Linked DNA regions of Homo sapiens. Each later gene encodes a partner of the first gene's protein in a complex. Each region holds a gene or a part of one and is shown on either strand. Other genes may lie near its edges. A codon is read from its position in the direction of its gene.

Region 1 (7,025 bases):
AAAAATACAAAAATTAGCCGGGCGTGGTGGCACACACCTGTAATCCCAGCTACTTGGGAGGCTGAGGCAGGAGAATTGCTTGAACCCGGGAGGTGGAGGTTACAGTAAGCCAAGATCACACCACTGCACTCCAGCCTGAGCAACAGAGCGAGACTCCGTCTCAAAAAGTAAAATAAAATAACATAAAGTAAAATAACAGGGATCTGCTATGGCCTCAGATTTAAGGGGGAAACATTCACCTTATTGGCAACATAGCCTTTGCTTTGAGTAATCGTGGCAACCTGGGAATAGCTTTGTGAATTTATGAAGTGGAATTTCAGGCAGAAAAATGCCCAGGCACTGCTACTGCCCAGCAGACAGGGTGGGAGGGCTGGCAGATTTCCTTTTAATCTGCTTTAAAGCTTCAAAGAGATTCTGTCTGTAGGAAGTTTCAGCTGTACCTGGGCAGTTTCCTGACTTGGACCTCAACCACTCCAAAACACCCAAGAGGAAGCCATTAGGAACAGACTGAAAGAATCAAGCTCTTTCTCTTCGATGCTCATCTGACCCGCAGGAGCTTACAACCCGCATGTTTAAAGGCATGGTTTTCCAGAACAAGTCTTGGTTCACTGGGTCAGGCCCTACACACCCCGAGAGCATCAGCTGGCACTGGAATCAGGAAGGGTGACCCTGTATCCCCCGAAATGCAGCCACTTAGTGACTCCGAAAGGCCACTGAGCAAAGGCAGGAGCCCTGCACTGGGAGAAGGGATTTGCCTATGGCTAGAGGTTGAGTTTTCCCACTGCAGAATTCCATCTATTAGAACACCAAACTTGGCTTTATTATGATTATGGATATTATTATAAATAATAAGGAGCTGATTTGATACATGCAGCAAGCTTGGCATGGAAACATTGCAAAACAGGAAAAGAGGGTAACAGCGGACTCTGGCCCACCTTCCCAGTCTGTGCTGGGTACAGACGGCACTGCTGGAAACACATCTCCAAAATCATAATCTACAAAAACGAGGGACAAAACTGAAGATTAGAAACACAGGCAGTGGAAGGATGACTGGAGGGAGGGGAGGGGAAATGGGGTGGGAGACATGGGGAGAAAATAGGAGAGGAAAACTTCAACTTTCTACATTGTATCCAACAACCTTGGGGAAACTTACTAGGGCCCTGACTGCCTCTCAGCTCAGGCGCTGGCCCAGGAGCCTCCAACCAGCTGGAAAGACCTGTCAGGGTGACCCCTTTCCACATCCAGAAGCTGGTTCTGGCAGAGAGAAGCCTGGCTGCCTGTGCCTAGCTTTGTTTTCTACCTCTTACGTGCCTTCCCTCCATACCCTAGCAGGGCAAGGAGACACTGCCCTGGCAGCTGCAGTTGCACAATCTCCAAATTGCTGAGGGGACACCTCCATCCATGGATCCATCCTTGCCCTGGCTCTTCCGGCAAGGCCCACCCCTCCAACTCCTCTAAGGTGGCCCATGGGCCCAACCTAAGGAGACTGTGCCGCCTTCTTCAGCTTGCACGGTCAGCAATGCAGGTCTTGCTAACAGCAAGTTTGAGAGGGACCTCCCTTCCTGGGACATATAACCCGTGGTACAGCAGAAATAAAGAAAGGGGAAGGTCAAGGTCTCAATGCTGAGGCAATTCTAGGGTGCCCCAGGGCTAAATTGGGGCTGGGATCCCCTTCCCTGGAGGTGAGGTGGTGGGGTGAAGTAAATGAAGGGCTCTGGTCTCCTACAGGAGATAAAGAGGGGAAAATGGCCAGTTTTATCCATGAACACCAGGGCCTAAGGTTTGAAAGAAACCAGGCTGTTCCAGTAAATCATTGGGTCAAGACAACAAAATGACCTGCAGCTTCTTCCTCGGTCCCTGATGCAAAGGGTGCGACCATCCCAAACACATCAGCGAGCGCAGAAGGAACTCAGAGAAATCGGACGGACACACAGGACACAGTGGCAAGGTTTCCCTGCGCTTCAGACCTGCCTGGTTCTCTCTTCTTCTAGGGGTTGCTTAACCTCCTTCTGCAAAGAATGTGGGGTCAGACAAGCTCCCCAGAACAGGCAACACTCAACCCTGCGACAAGGTTTCCAGGTCCCACTGCTAAACCTTCCTTGCTTAGAAAACTGCCACAGGCATGTGACTAGAACCTTCTGGAAAAGGGTCTAACCTTAAAAAATATATATTTTATATATATATATATATATATAATTTCAGCTTTTTGTGCCCAGAATCCACTTTTTAGCCACCACAGGGACTCTGAGGAGATGAAGATCTGGGAAATGGCCAGCCCTGTTTAATTGCAAATTTCAGCCACCAGACCAAAACTAGCCAAGGAAGACATCACCCAGCCAGGCTTAAGCAGTTCAAGTCTGTTTCACAACAGGGGCTTAGCTTTTCTGCCCTGGGGCCACTCACCCTCACTAGATGGGGCAATCGCACTGTCATCCCACTCCAGGTTGGTGGAGGTGACGGAGTTGAAAGAGTTGAGGGACAGACTGTCTGAGCCGTGGACCGAGCTGGGAAGGCGGTCTTCAAAGTCCAGCAGGTACTGAGGTTTGTAGTAGTCGGGCATGTAGGGGGCCAGGTCTAGGTAAGGGGCATCCTGAGGAGAGAGTAGAGGAGGCCCGTTTGGTGGGAGGCCTCGTGCAGCGGCCTTCTGCAGACAGCAGGATCCAGGCCTGGGAGACACAGATGTGCCTCTTTGGGAAATCAATGGCTTAAGGTAGTAAATTCAAAGAAAAGCTGCTAAGAAGAGCAATGTGAATAGTGTTGGCTTTTAAAGCTGTGGACTTCAGGCTGATGGAAGACAGAGCTGTCAGAACTCAGCTACACCCTTTGATGCCCCCGCTATCTCTCTCTCTCTCTATTTATTTATTTTTTTTTTTGAGACAGAGTCTCACTCTGTTGCCCTGGCTGGAGTGCAATGACGTGGCTCGGCTCACTGCAACTTCCACCTCCCGGGTTCGAGCGATTCTCCTGCCTCAGCCTCCCAAGTAGCTGAGATTATAGGCGCCCATCACCACACCCCGCTAACTTTTGTATTTTTTTAGTAGAGACGAGGTTTCGCCATGTTGGCCAGGCTGGTCTCGAACTCCTGACCTCAGGTGATCCACCCACCTCAGCCTCCCAAAGTGCTGGGATTATAGGTGTGAGCCACTGCGCCTGGCCCAAGGAAGGTCATTTGATTAGGACGGGGCAGCTGCATCCATTTTGAGCCCAGTCCAAGAGGTGCCTGGGAGCCTCTTTGGCTCTATGTGGGCCAGCATCCCATTTGTACAGGGTGTGATGGGGAGAGAAACTTGAGAACTTGAAGAGGGTGGCTGAAGGCTCTTCATGGAGCTGATGACACTTTTCAGAACCCCAGAAGCACCAGGCTGAAACTGCCTTGTCCTTCTAACTCTTCACATCCTAAACATGAAGGCCAGTTCTTCTGGGCTAAGATACTCCAGGCAATGTGGCTTTTCTCCAAGTTGGATAGGGAGATAGGAAAAAGTCACCTGAACCAGGAATTCTTGCCATCACTTCTCTTCTCACTCAATTCGATGGACCCTGAAACCTTTCCCTCGCCCAAAAAAACAAGTTTTGCTCAAGCCCAGTCATACTCAACAAGCTCCCTCAACAAGACCTGAGAAATGAAGCCACCGCCCACCCTGCCCCCACCCTGCCCCCTCCTCTGCTTCCCACAAGCAGTGAGAGCCCTGGTGTCTCACCAGATCCAGCTCGAAACGAATGAACTCTAGCCCGGACACCAAGGTCAGGAAGAGCGTCAGGTGATCGTGGCTGCAGACCAGGGCATTCCTGCAAGACATGAGAAGCCACGATGGTGCCTCTGGGTCTGTTTACCAGCCTGGCCTAACCTTACCAACATACCAGCTGTGTTGAAATCTGACACGTGATGTCCTCCACCTTGGACGGCACCCAGCTTGATATAGCTGTTGCCCACCACCCTCTCAGCGATCTCCTACTGGGTTAGCAGCCACACTGCACTGTCCTGCCAGTGTCTTCAGAGATGGACGAGCACAAGGCTTGTCAGGCTCTCAGCAGCTGCTGTACACACTCTGTTCCTGCAGCAACCCCAGCAAAGGCTGAGCCAAAGCATGGGCACTGGTCAGGTCTGAAGCCTGGGAGGAGGACCAGGGAGCAGCAGAGACCCAGACTGTACCCAGGAGCCCAGATGGGACACCGGTGCTCCTGGTGAAGGCTACCCAGCTACTGGCAAGGTTCTAATGGCTCTCTGGCATCACTGATGTGGCACACTGTGCTGTCTGCATGACAAGAGCCTTTGGGAGGTAGCTGAAAGGGAGCTCTGAGGCTAGGGGAGACAGACCGTCCCAGACACTCACTTGACGTAGTACTTATGCAGCAGGCCCAGGTTCTCCTGGAACAACCGCAGGTAGCTCTCCAAGGAGTTCTCGTTGAGGGCCAGGTACAGCCAGGCACGGCCTGCAAACAAAGGCAGGAGTAACCGGCAGGAAGGCCTCTCAGACTGCTGGCTTTTATTTGCCAAGCAAGCGCAGAAAGGAAAGAAAGAGCAGGTAATGGGACCAGGCACTTCAGTGGCCTTTGTGCTTGGTGGGGTACCATAACCCCTGAGTGCTTTATTTTCCTAGTCAGACCTCAGCATGTAGCTGGCCAGGAAATTCTGATAAAGAGGGCAGACTGCACACTTCAGACAGGTCAAGAAACGCCAGGACTCTGCACTGATCCTGTAGGCTAACAGTGATCCCAGCTCAGGGAGAGAAACCAGACTCCATAGCACGTGCTCAGGCTGGGATTCCATAAGAGTCCAGCTCTCGCTGGCAGCTCGCCCTCTTTCTCCCCATCACTGCTGTGCCAAAAAACCATCATATGTGGGGAGAAAAGAGGCCTCATGGAGGGGGCTGGCATTTTATAAATTTATTATTTATTACTATTATTTTATTTTTTGAGACAGAGACTCTGTCACCCAGGCTGGAGTATAGTGGTGTGATCACAGCTCAATACAGCCTTAAATTCCTGGGCTCAAGGGATCCTCCTGCCTTACCCTCCCAAAGTGTTGGAATTACAGGCATGAGCCACTGTGCCCGGCCATTTTCCTAAATCTTTAGAGATGGGGTCTCACTCTTTCTTCCAGGCTGGAGTGCAATGCTGTGGTCATGCCTCACTGCAGCCTCAAACTCCGGGGCTCAAGCCATCCTCCCACCTCAGCCCCTGAGTAGCTGGGACTATAGGTGTGTACCAAGACATCCATGTAATATTTAAATTTTTGTAGAGATGGGGTCTCACTGTGTTGCCCAGGCTGGTCTAAACTCCTGGCCTCAAGCCATCCTCCCTCCTCAGCCTCCCAAAATGCTGGGATTACAGGTGTGAGCCACCATGCCTGGCCTGGTGCTGGCATTTTAACACCCCACTGCTACTGGACACCACCAGGTAATTTGCCTCCCAGGGCTGACCCTGAGGGTAAACCTGGGACAGAGCCCCAAGCTACCCACCGAAGGTGGAGCTGGTCCCTTCCCCAGCGTCTCCTTGTGACTACTCACTGCGCCCCAGGTTGGTGGCCACGTGCTGCAGCACCTCGATCTGCTTGATGGCCTCTCTCCGAGTAAAATGCACCACGAGCACCCAGTAGCCAGAGGAGAGGTCTTGCAGTCTGAGAAAACAGGACAGGAGCTGCTGTGACCTGCATGGGGCCACCCTGGGAAGCTGCAGTCGGCTGGTCCAGCAGTGAGCGCAAGGCAGGAAGTGATGGATCCCCAGCAGGTCTCCCAGGCACCCAGCACACCTTCACACCATCATATCATTTGTGGCAAATCCTCCCTCCATCATTTATGTCTGCCCAGAGATGATTTACTGGGGTAACTACAGAGAGACTGTGGCCCACTTGAGTGGGACAAATCCCTTTCTGCCAAGGGGAGAGAAGAAAGAAAAGGCAGAGAGGCTAAGGGTTTCTCTGTGGAGGCTACTCATGGCCTGGGTTGTGCTCCGTCATCTTTGGAAACTTCCTCCACCTTACCCGTACAGCAGGGCGTGGTCCAGGTGCTCACACAGACGCTGTAGGACCTTGTCATGGTTCCGGATGGCAGGGATCTCATCCTCACATGCAGCAAAATAGCTCTGCAACTGAAAGAAAAAAAAACACCTCCAAATCAGAAATGGATTAAGAGGAAGGCTACAAAAGTTCTGGAATCAAGAAGGTAGCTAAAAAAAATTAGTCAAATGGTGTATCCACAATGACCAGCAGAGACGTCTACCTCAAACCACCCCTGTCCCAGCTGCTGCTCTGGCACTGGAGGTTCCAGCAGGCAACAGCTGTATCTTTACAGCCCAGTCCCCCAGAGGCACCCAGTCAGCAGTCCGCACAGTGACAACTTGAGGCTGGAGGGATCCACTGTCCATGCATAGGTCTCAAGTGGTGGCAAGCTTCAGGCCAGGGCCACAGCATGGCACAACTTCAGGGGCACTATGTACAGTGCTGTCTAGACCAATGCCACACAAACCCAGAGTTGGGGCATTGATACAGAGAGCGCTAGACGTATTTTCCTCCCATTGTCAACAGACCTTTAAACTTTGCTTATGTTATTGTTTTGCCCTATTGAGAAAGTTTTAATTTTTAGGCAGTCAAATCTGTCCATCTTTTCCTTTATAGTTTCCCATTTTTCCCAGTCATATATTAGAAAAGTATCTTTTTTCTTTTCTTTTTGGTTGTTTGTTTTATTGAGACAAAGTCTTGTTCTGTCGCCCAGGCTGGAGGGCAGTGGCATGATCTCGGCTCACTGCAGCCTCCGCCTCCTGGGTTCAAGTGATTCTCCTGCCTCAGCCTCCCGAGTAGCTGGGATTACAGGTGCCCACCACCATGCCCAGCTAATTTTTTATCTTTAGTAGAGACGAGGTTTCGCCATGTTGGCCAGGCTGGTCTCAAGCTCCTGACCTCAGGTGATCCACCCACTTTGGCCTCCCAAAGTGCTGCGATTACAGGCGTGAGCCACTGTGCCCGGCCTGTTTGTTTTGAGACAGGGTCTCACTCTGTCATGCAGGCTGGAGTGCAGTGGTGTGATCAC
Region 2 (7,025 bases), on another chromosome or scaffold:
TAAGGGTTGGCTGTACAGAATTGTAGTATGCGTATGGAGAAAATGCTAACTGAACCTTTCTAAACAAATAAAAATATACACAATTATTTTTCCAATAGCTCAAGTATTGACTTATTTTATGGGCAGATGATACCAAACTAGCAAAAAGCTTTATGCTAAAAATGTGCCTTTGTGGGAAAACCAGCATGTTCGGTACTTAAAATATTTCCATTCTGAACTGAAGTCAGTGAATAGGCATGTCTTGCAACTTCATTTGCTTAGCAGGGTCTTGGTTTGATTTGTAAAAACTGGGACATAAAATGTTTTACTAGCACTTGCCACTTAAAGTCCTAAATTTGGTGTATTGTGACCGTTGACAAGTAGTAGCATTTCCCCCGCCCCCAAAAAATCACAATATCAATTCTGTGGATATTTTAAAAGTTTATTTCTATTTTAACTAGCCCACAGACCCCATTCTTTGAGGGCTGATCTGATTTCTGACAAATGGTCTATAGACCCTCCTCTCGGAAACTTCCAAAAAAGTCTGCACCTTCCATCATGATGCACATTTTAAGTTAAAATTGCCAATACAACCCTTAAAATGCAAGTTTATTGAATAAAGCTGAGAAGAGCAGTAAACAGACAAAAAATGCATCCACCTAAATAAAAAAATTCACATATTTACATAGTTCAGTAACTGTTAAAAGTTTTCACATGCAGAGGTTAATGCACAGGAAAATGTTGGTAATAGCGTCTGGATGTCTTGAAATGCGGAAAGCAATGTATAGACACACAAACACATTAAGGTTTAGCTATAGGTCAATTAACAAACCTATGCAGTCCCCACAGAGTCACACATTCTAGTTCCAATTCCTCCTTTTAGGCACAAGCAAGTTGCCACATTCTTTGTAATGGTTCACACTGACCATTAATGGTGTTGAACAACAGTAGCAAGTTTAAATATCCCTTCATTTACAGAACCATCCATCCCACCAGGGTAGTATGCAACATGCTTCAAAGAATAAGAAGAGAAATTTAAAAGCCCAGATTCTACTCATAAAAATATGAATGGAGAAAAGCAAGTAGTGTCTGTGCAACACAGTGCAGTATATTGTACAGAATATTTTTAAGGCCATGGCAGTCTATAAATTAAAACTGATATTCATTAAAAGAACTTACTGTTGACTACACTCTGAGTGCTCAACACATTTGGAAATGCAGTCTACATAAGTGCTGCTTAACAAAAGAAACAAAATCACACACAGTGTGAGGCAACACATAAGCAGGTGTACCATAGAGTTTTATCTACTACAGTGGTCTATATGAATAATAATTTACAAATGAACCAGTATTAATATGTCCCTTTATGTATACGGAAGTCGCTAAACTACAAAACATGTCCATTTGAAGTTTTTAGACATCTCTGTATCATAGAAGCAAACAAACAGCATCAGTTCCTCAGTTCTCTGTGTGACTGATTATTAAACAACCTGTAGACATTGAGCATGATTACATTAGATAAAGCAGGCAGGTCTAGAGTTGTCACAATAATCAAGATGTCTAATGGCACCAGTCAAAAGAGTGCCAAAGCTTACATCAGTAAGAGAGAAAAATAAAAATTTTTTATTTGTTTATAAGTATCTTTTGTGCTGAAAGTCAACTTTATGACTGGATATAAAAAGTCAGGAGTTAAGAGTGTCATGCAGCAGCACTGATTTAATGACTGGAGATAGAACAAACAGATGTTTGAACAAAGACTGACATTCTTAACAGGTTTTATTATATTGGGTGGAATGCTCTAAATTCATGAACGCTTTTGGAAAATCTTCAATTCTCAACCCCTTAAAAAAGTATCCTGAACCAGGAAGAAAAAACAAGAGACAGAAATAATGATCTGGACAGATACAAAACAGGATGCTTTAGTTCCTCCCATATCCCAACTGCCATCTGGTGATAGAGTTCTCAGAAAGCAGGATATCTTTAATATTCATCAGGCAGAATCTCACCAGTGCAAAGAACCAACATTGATCTGGTGCCTCCGCTCACTCTCTGCAGACCATTTTGGATTCCTAAGATGTAATTATACATTTCACATGCATTTGTGAGATAAAATAAACATTATGTTTACATATATCCCACATGAGTCATTCACGCCTAAAGGTTTTCTAAATACTGTGTGTGGCACTAGAAACTTCATGCTGTATCAAGTCAGTGTCAGTATTAAGCTACTGGACTCTATAATGAAATATTATAGATAGACATTTACTGAAAACCAATATAAAAATCTGGCCCAGAAAGACCAGAATGGAAATATGCAATTTTCTTGATTTAAGATGGTCATAAGTATATGGGGTTTTTTTTCTGTTTTTAAAGCTCTACACATGGTTTAAGACAGGTATGTGTAAGAAGCCTTTTTGTGTGTGCTGACTTTATCATGACAACTCTAGCTGATTCTTTATGAAGGATTAGGGATATTCATCTTCAGCAGTGCACATGAGAAATAAACTCTGAAAAAGGCAATTTCTGGGGTTTAGGAAGGACCGTATTCTGGGAATTACTTCAGAGGAACGGACAATAATTCTAGGATTATAGCCAAGAAGGACTGGAAGACTTCAGGAGATGCTTCAGCTTCTTCTAGATTTTGAATGCTGAATAAGCCACTGAAGTGTGATATCTAAAGATAGAGGGGAAAAGTGAAGACATTAAAGTTAAAAAACTAAACATCAAACAGAGACAATATTTAAAAGGCAGCTAATTCAAGGCACACACTATGCCTGACCTCTGCTGCTTTTCTGCATCTGCATTACCATACTCCATTACCCGAACTTCAAGAGAATATGAGGAATTATCAGAGACTGAAGCGTTTTCTGATTTAAAAATTAAGTTGTGTATAGGACGGCTGGTGCCACCTTTTATGTGTTGCCCACACAATCAATCAGGTGTTGCATGCAAATTGCCAGGAAGGCAAAAAAAAAAAAAAAAAAAAAGGAATAACCCCTGTTTGCCCTCAAGGCGCTTTTAAGTATAATACACAGAAAAGATGCAGTAATTCCCGGGGCTTGGGGGCCACCCCACAGAACTCCAGGTTAAAAAAAAAAAACAGCAAAAGAATGTTAAAAGGCATGAAACATTGTGGAGCTCTGGATGGATTGTGAGTGATACAATGTGACTAAAGCACAGGGATGGGAGAGGAGGCTGTCACTGCCAAGGCTGGTGCAGGGTTCACACCATGCCCTTTTGACATCTGGGGCTGGGTAATTCTTGTCCTCACTTCTTCAGAAGGGTACATGAGAGTCTATCAGAAGCACCACTCTATTCTCCAAGCCTGAAAGATGAGGGTAAATTCACTACCAGTTTCCCAGCTAACATGCATTAACGAAACACCACAGGGCTGAGCTATAACAAACATGAACTGTTCACCATTGTGGAAGCAATGATTTAACCCAACTACTGAAGAAGCACCTCTGCACCTTAAAATGGGGACAACAGTGCACAATACGAGCAAAGCCACACTCATTGGAACTGAATGGGAGAAAGGTAAATCTGAAGTGAAATAACCAAATTTAAATATTTAAGAAATTCATGGCCGGGCACGGTGGCTCACACCTGTAATCCCACACTTTGGGAGGCCGAGGCAGGTGATCACCTGAGGTCAGCAGTTTGAGACCAGCCTGGCCAACATGGTGAAACCCCATCTCTACTAAAAATACAAAAATTAGCCGAGCACGGCAGCGGGCGCCTGTAATCCCAGCTACTCGGGAGGCTGAGGCAGGAGATCACTTGAACCCAGGAGGCGGAGGTTGCAGTGAGCCAAAATTGCGCCACTGCACTCCAGCTGGGCCACAAGAGTGAAACTCCATCTCAAAAAAAAAAAAAAAGAAATTCACTAAAAAATTACACAAAGCCTCTGTGGATACTGATAGAAGTTCATATCCTAAAGACAAATGGATCTTTATGAATAGGCAAAAAGACAACAGAAATAAGATACTCAGATGAACTGATCTACAAAATACTTATTTCGAATTTTATTAGAGTGGATCTTATTAGACTGGATCAGATTCCTTGGGCTTGACAACCTTTTAAGTGAGCCAGGAGTTCTAAAATTACTACTGAGCTATTTAGCCAACTATAAAGATCAGCCTCAAATAGCGAAAGAAGTCCTCACAGCTCTACTGCACTTCCATATATGAGCCCAAGAGATTTTGTTTTTTTTTCAGGAAGTATCCAACTAGTTTGTAACAATGGAAAAACAGAAAACATGTAGGGAGTAATGGATTTACAAAATAGCACAATGGACTAAAAATTACGGTTAGTGTAGAACAGGATTTCTCAACCTTGCCACAACTGACATTTTATGCTGGATAATTCTTTGCTGTGGAGGTTATAGTATGTTTAGCTACATTTCTGGTATCTACCCACTAAATGCCAGCATCACCCTCCTAGTTATGACAACCAAAAATGTCTCCAGACATTGTCAAGTCTCCTGGGGGAAAAGCTCCCCATTGAGAACCACTGATGTAGAAATAAATGCTCTCATGGGGCATATCTTAAATTTTAAAAAGAGTTTTCCCCGCCACATAGAGAAAAAACTTTTAAATAAAGTCTAAGTAACCACAAGTGCTTGAGGAGTCTGTTCTCAAATAAATGCTCCCAATGTAACAAGTGAATTATTCTATCCATTTATAAAGGAAAATTTGTGTCTATCCGCTGTTACTAAGGCTGAGACTGCCCTGGATGGTCTTTAAAGGAAGCCCAAAATTAGCCAGAACGACTATCCACACTTTAAACTGAATAAAGCATATTTGTGGCTGGGCGTGGTGGCTCATGCCTGTCAATCTAAGCACTTTGGGAGGCTGAGGCAGGTGCATCACCTGAGGTCAGGAGTTCAAGACCAGCATGGCCAACATGATGAAACCCTGTCTCTACTAAAAATACAAAAATTAGCCAGGCGTGGTAGTGGGCAACTGTAATCCCAGCTACTCAGGAGGCTGAGGCACAAGAATCACTTGAACCCGGGAAGTGGAGGTTGCTGTGAGCTAAGATCTTGCCACTGCACTCCAGCCACGGCGACAGAGTGAGACTCCATCTTAAAAAAATAAAAATAAATAAAGCCATGTTTGCAGGCGGGGTGGAAGGTGAGTTAGGGAAGGATAGACTGGAATACAAAAGCTAAAGAAAAAATATCAGCATAAACTTTATAGATATACTATTCTGGTACTATTTATTACATTTTGTTCCAATACATTCATTTATCAAATCATCTCAAACCAAATTAGTTAAGAAACTAAAGTTGAGCCATACATACTTATTCTGTAACCATACTATGCTAGAATGTTTAATGTCCCCCTAAAAAGTCATGTCCATCCAGAACCTCAGAATGTGACTTTTACTGGAAATAGGGTCTCTGCAAGTTATTAGTTAAGATAAGGTCATACTGGATTAGGTGGGCCCTACCTAATCCAGTGACTTGCGTCCTTAGGAAAACATAATACACTGACACAGAGACAACTACAGGGGAGAAGCATGAATGTGAGGCAGAGACTGGAGTGGTATATCTACAAGTGAAGGAATGCCAAGGATTGCTGGCAACCACCACAAGCTAGAGAGAGGCAAGGAGGGATCTTCTACAGCCTTCAGAGAGAACACGACCCTGCTGACAACTTGATTTTGGACTTCCAGCCTCTAGAATTTTGAATGACTTAAGTTTCTGCTGTTCTAAGCCACCTTGTTTGTGGTACTTTGTTATGGCAGTTCTAAGAAGTTAATATGGGCATTGAGTAAATGAAGGGTATTTTGGGCATATAATTCCAATAGAGTGCTAACATATTGCAGTAATATACTGGTTCAATAACTGAAAAATTGTTGTAGTGCCTGTAGACTAATTTTTGTAAAGTCTTATTTCAAAAATGCCATTTTGTTATAAAGCACAGCGGGATACTAGCTCTGCAAAAATTAACACAATAAATTGGTATCACATAATCTTAACCTCACGACTTTATTGCATTTTCTTCTTTAAATAGCACAAAGAAGATTCAGGATGTTATACATTCAGTCCTCACTTAACATCACTGATAGGTTCTTGGAAACTGCCACTTTAAGTGAAATGGTGTATAACAAAACTATTTTTTTCTCATTAACATTGTAACGCTGAACGAAATGAGGGCCTACTGTATGTCATTTCGCTTAAAAGTGCAATTTCCTCTTTTTAAAAAATTTTTTGCTGTTCAAGAGTTTGATAACATATAGGCCGGGCTCACACCTGTAATCCCAACACTTTGGGGGGCCGAGGCAGTTGGATCATTTGAGGTCAGGAGTTCAAGACCAGCTTGGGCAACATGGAAACCCTGTCGCTACTGAAAATACAAAAATTAGCCGGGCGTGGTGGTGCACGTCTGTAGTCCCAGCTACTCAGGAGGCTGAGGCACAAGAATCGCTTTAACCCAGGAGGCAGAGGTTGCAGTAAGTCGAGATCACGCCACTGCACTCAAGCCTGGGTGAAGGAGTGACACTGTCTCAAAAAATACATATACATATAATATTATTTATATATATATATTTATGTTATATATAATATATATTTATATATATTATATATTACATATATATTACATATAATATATAATACATATTACATATATATTACATATAATATATAATACATATTACATATATTATATTATATATATATTTGTATGAGAGAGAGAGAGATAACATTGCAATTTCAAAGAAGCCATCAATGATGTTAAGTGAAGGTTCACTATATTTGTTGTCAAAAGGTATGTCTATTCTTTTTTCTCAGGCAAAAGCAACAGTATTCTGAAAAGGAAGTCACTTAATGAGAAATCGAGACAATAAGCTGTAAGAAGCATAGACATTCCTTCCAATGATACCCATTTCTTCCAAAATTACCAGTCATTTCTTACCTATATTATCCTTTTCTTTGCAAGAAATTGAATAGCAGCAAATTTCTCTATCCTGAATAGCAGACAGATTCCTATGAGAAGAATTAAAAGGATAAGTCTGTGCTTAGAACAGCTGTCATACTT

The links.
Region 2: the proteins of PLEKHM2 (region 1) and ARL8B are in contact, whole or in part, in a crystal structure (PDB 8JCA), measured with the Homo sapiens proteins. Residues at the interface, in NP_055979.2 of Homo sapiens: His70 (codon at 5,577), Phe71 (codon at 5,574), Thr72 (codon at 5,571), Arg73 (codon at 5,568), Arg74 (codon at 5,565), Glu75 (codon at 5,562), Glu103 (codon at 4,402), Ser105 (codon at 4,396), Glu107 (codon at 4,390), Ser108 (codon at 4,387), Tyr109 (codon at 4,384), Arg111 (codon at 4,378), Leu112 (codon at 4,375), Glu115 (codon at 4,366), Glu147 (codon at 3,725), Phe148 (codon at 3,722); in NP_060654.1 of Homo sapiens: Glu22, Thr52, Val53, Gly54, Phe55, Asn56, Met57, Lys68, Trp70, Arg77, Phe78, Arg84, Tyr85, Arg87, Gly88, Val89.

Annotation. Positions count from the first base shown.
Region 1 is NC_000001.11:15,715,299-15,722,323, reverse strand, and holds part of PLEKHM2 (pleckstrin homology domain-containing family M member 2), read right to left. Parts: intron 6,088-7,025; coding exon 5,981-6,087; intron 5,618-5,980; coding exon 5,508-5,617; intron 4,432-5,507; coding exon 4,332-4,431; intron 3,787-4,331; coding exon 3,699-3,786; intron 2,591-3,698; coding exon 2,404-2,590; intron 1,988-2,403; exon of another isoform or gene 1,880-1,987; coding exon of another isoform or gene 1,837-1,879; intron 996-1,836; coding exon 936-995; intron 1-935. UniProt on the Homo sapiens protein: Plays a role in lysosomes movement and localization at the cell periphery acting as an effector of ARL8B.
Region 2 is NC_000003.12:5,174,292-5,181,316, reverse strand, and holds the end of ARL8B (ADP-ribosylation factor-like protein 8B), read right to left. Parts: intron 6,974-7,025; coding exon 6,903-6,973; intron 2,654-6,902; coding exon 2,604-2,653; 3' UTR 406-2,603; downstream 1-405. UniProt on the Homo sapiens protein: Small GTPase which cycles between active GTP-bound and inactive GDP-bound states.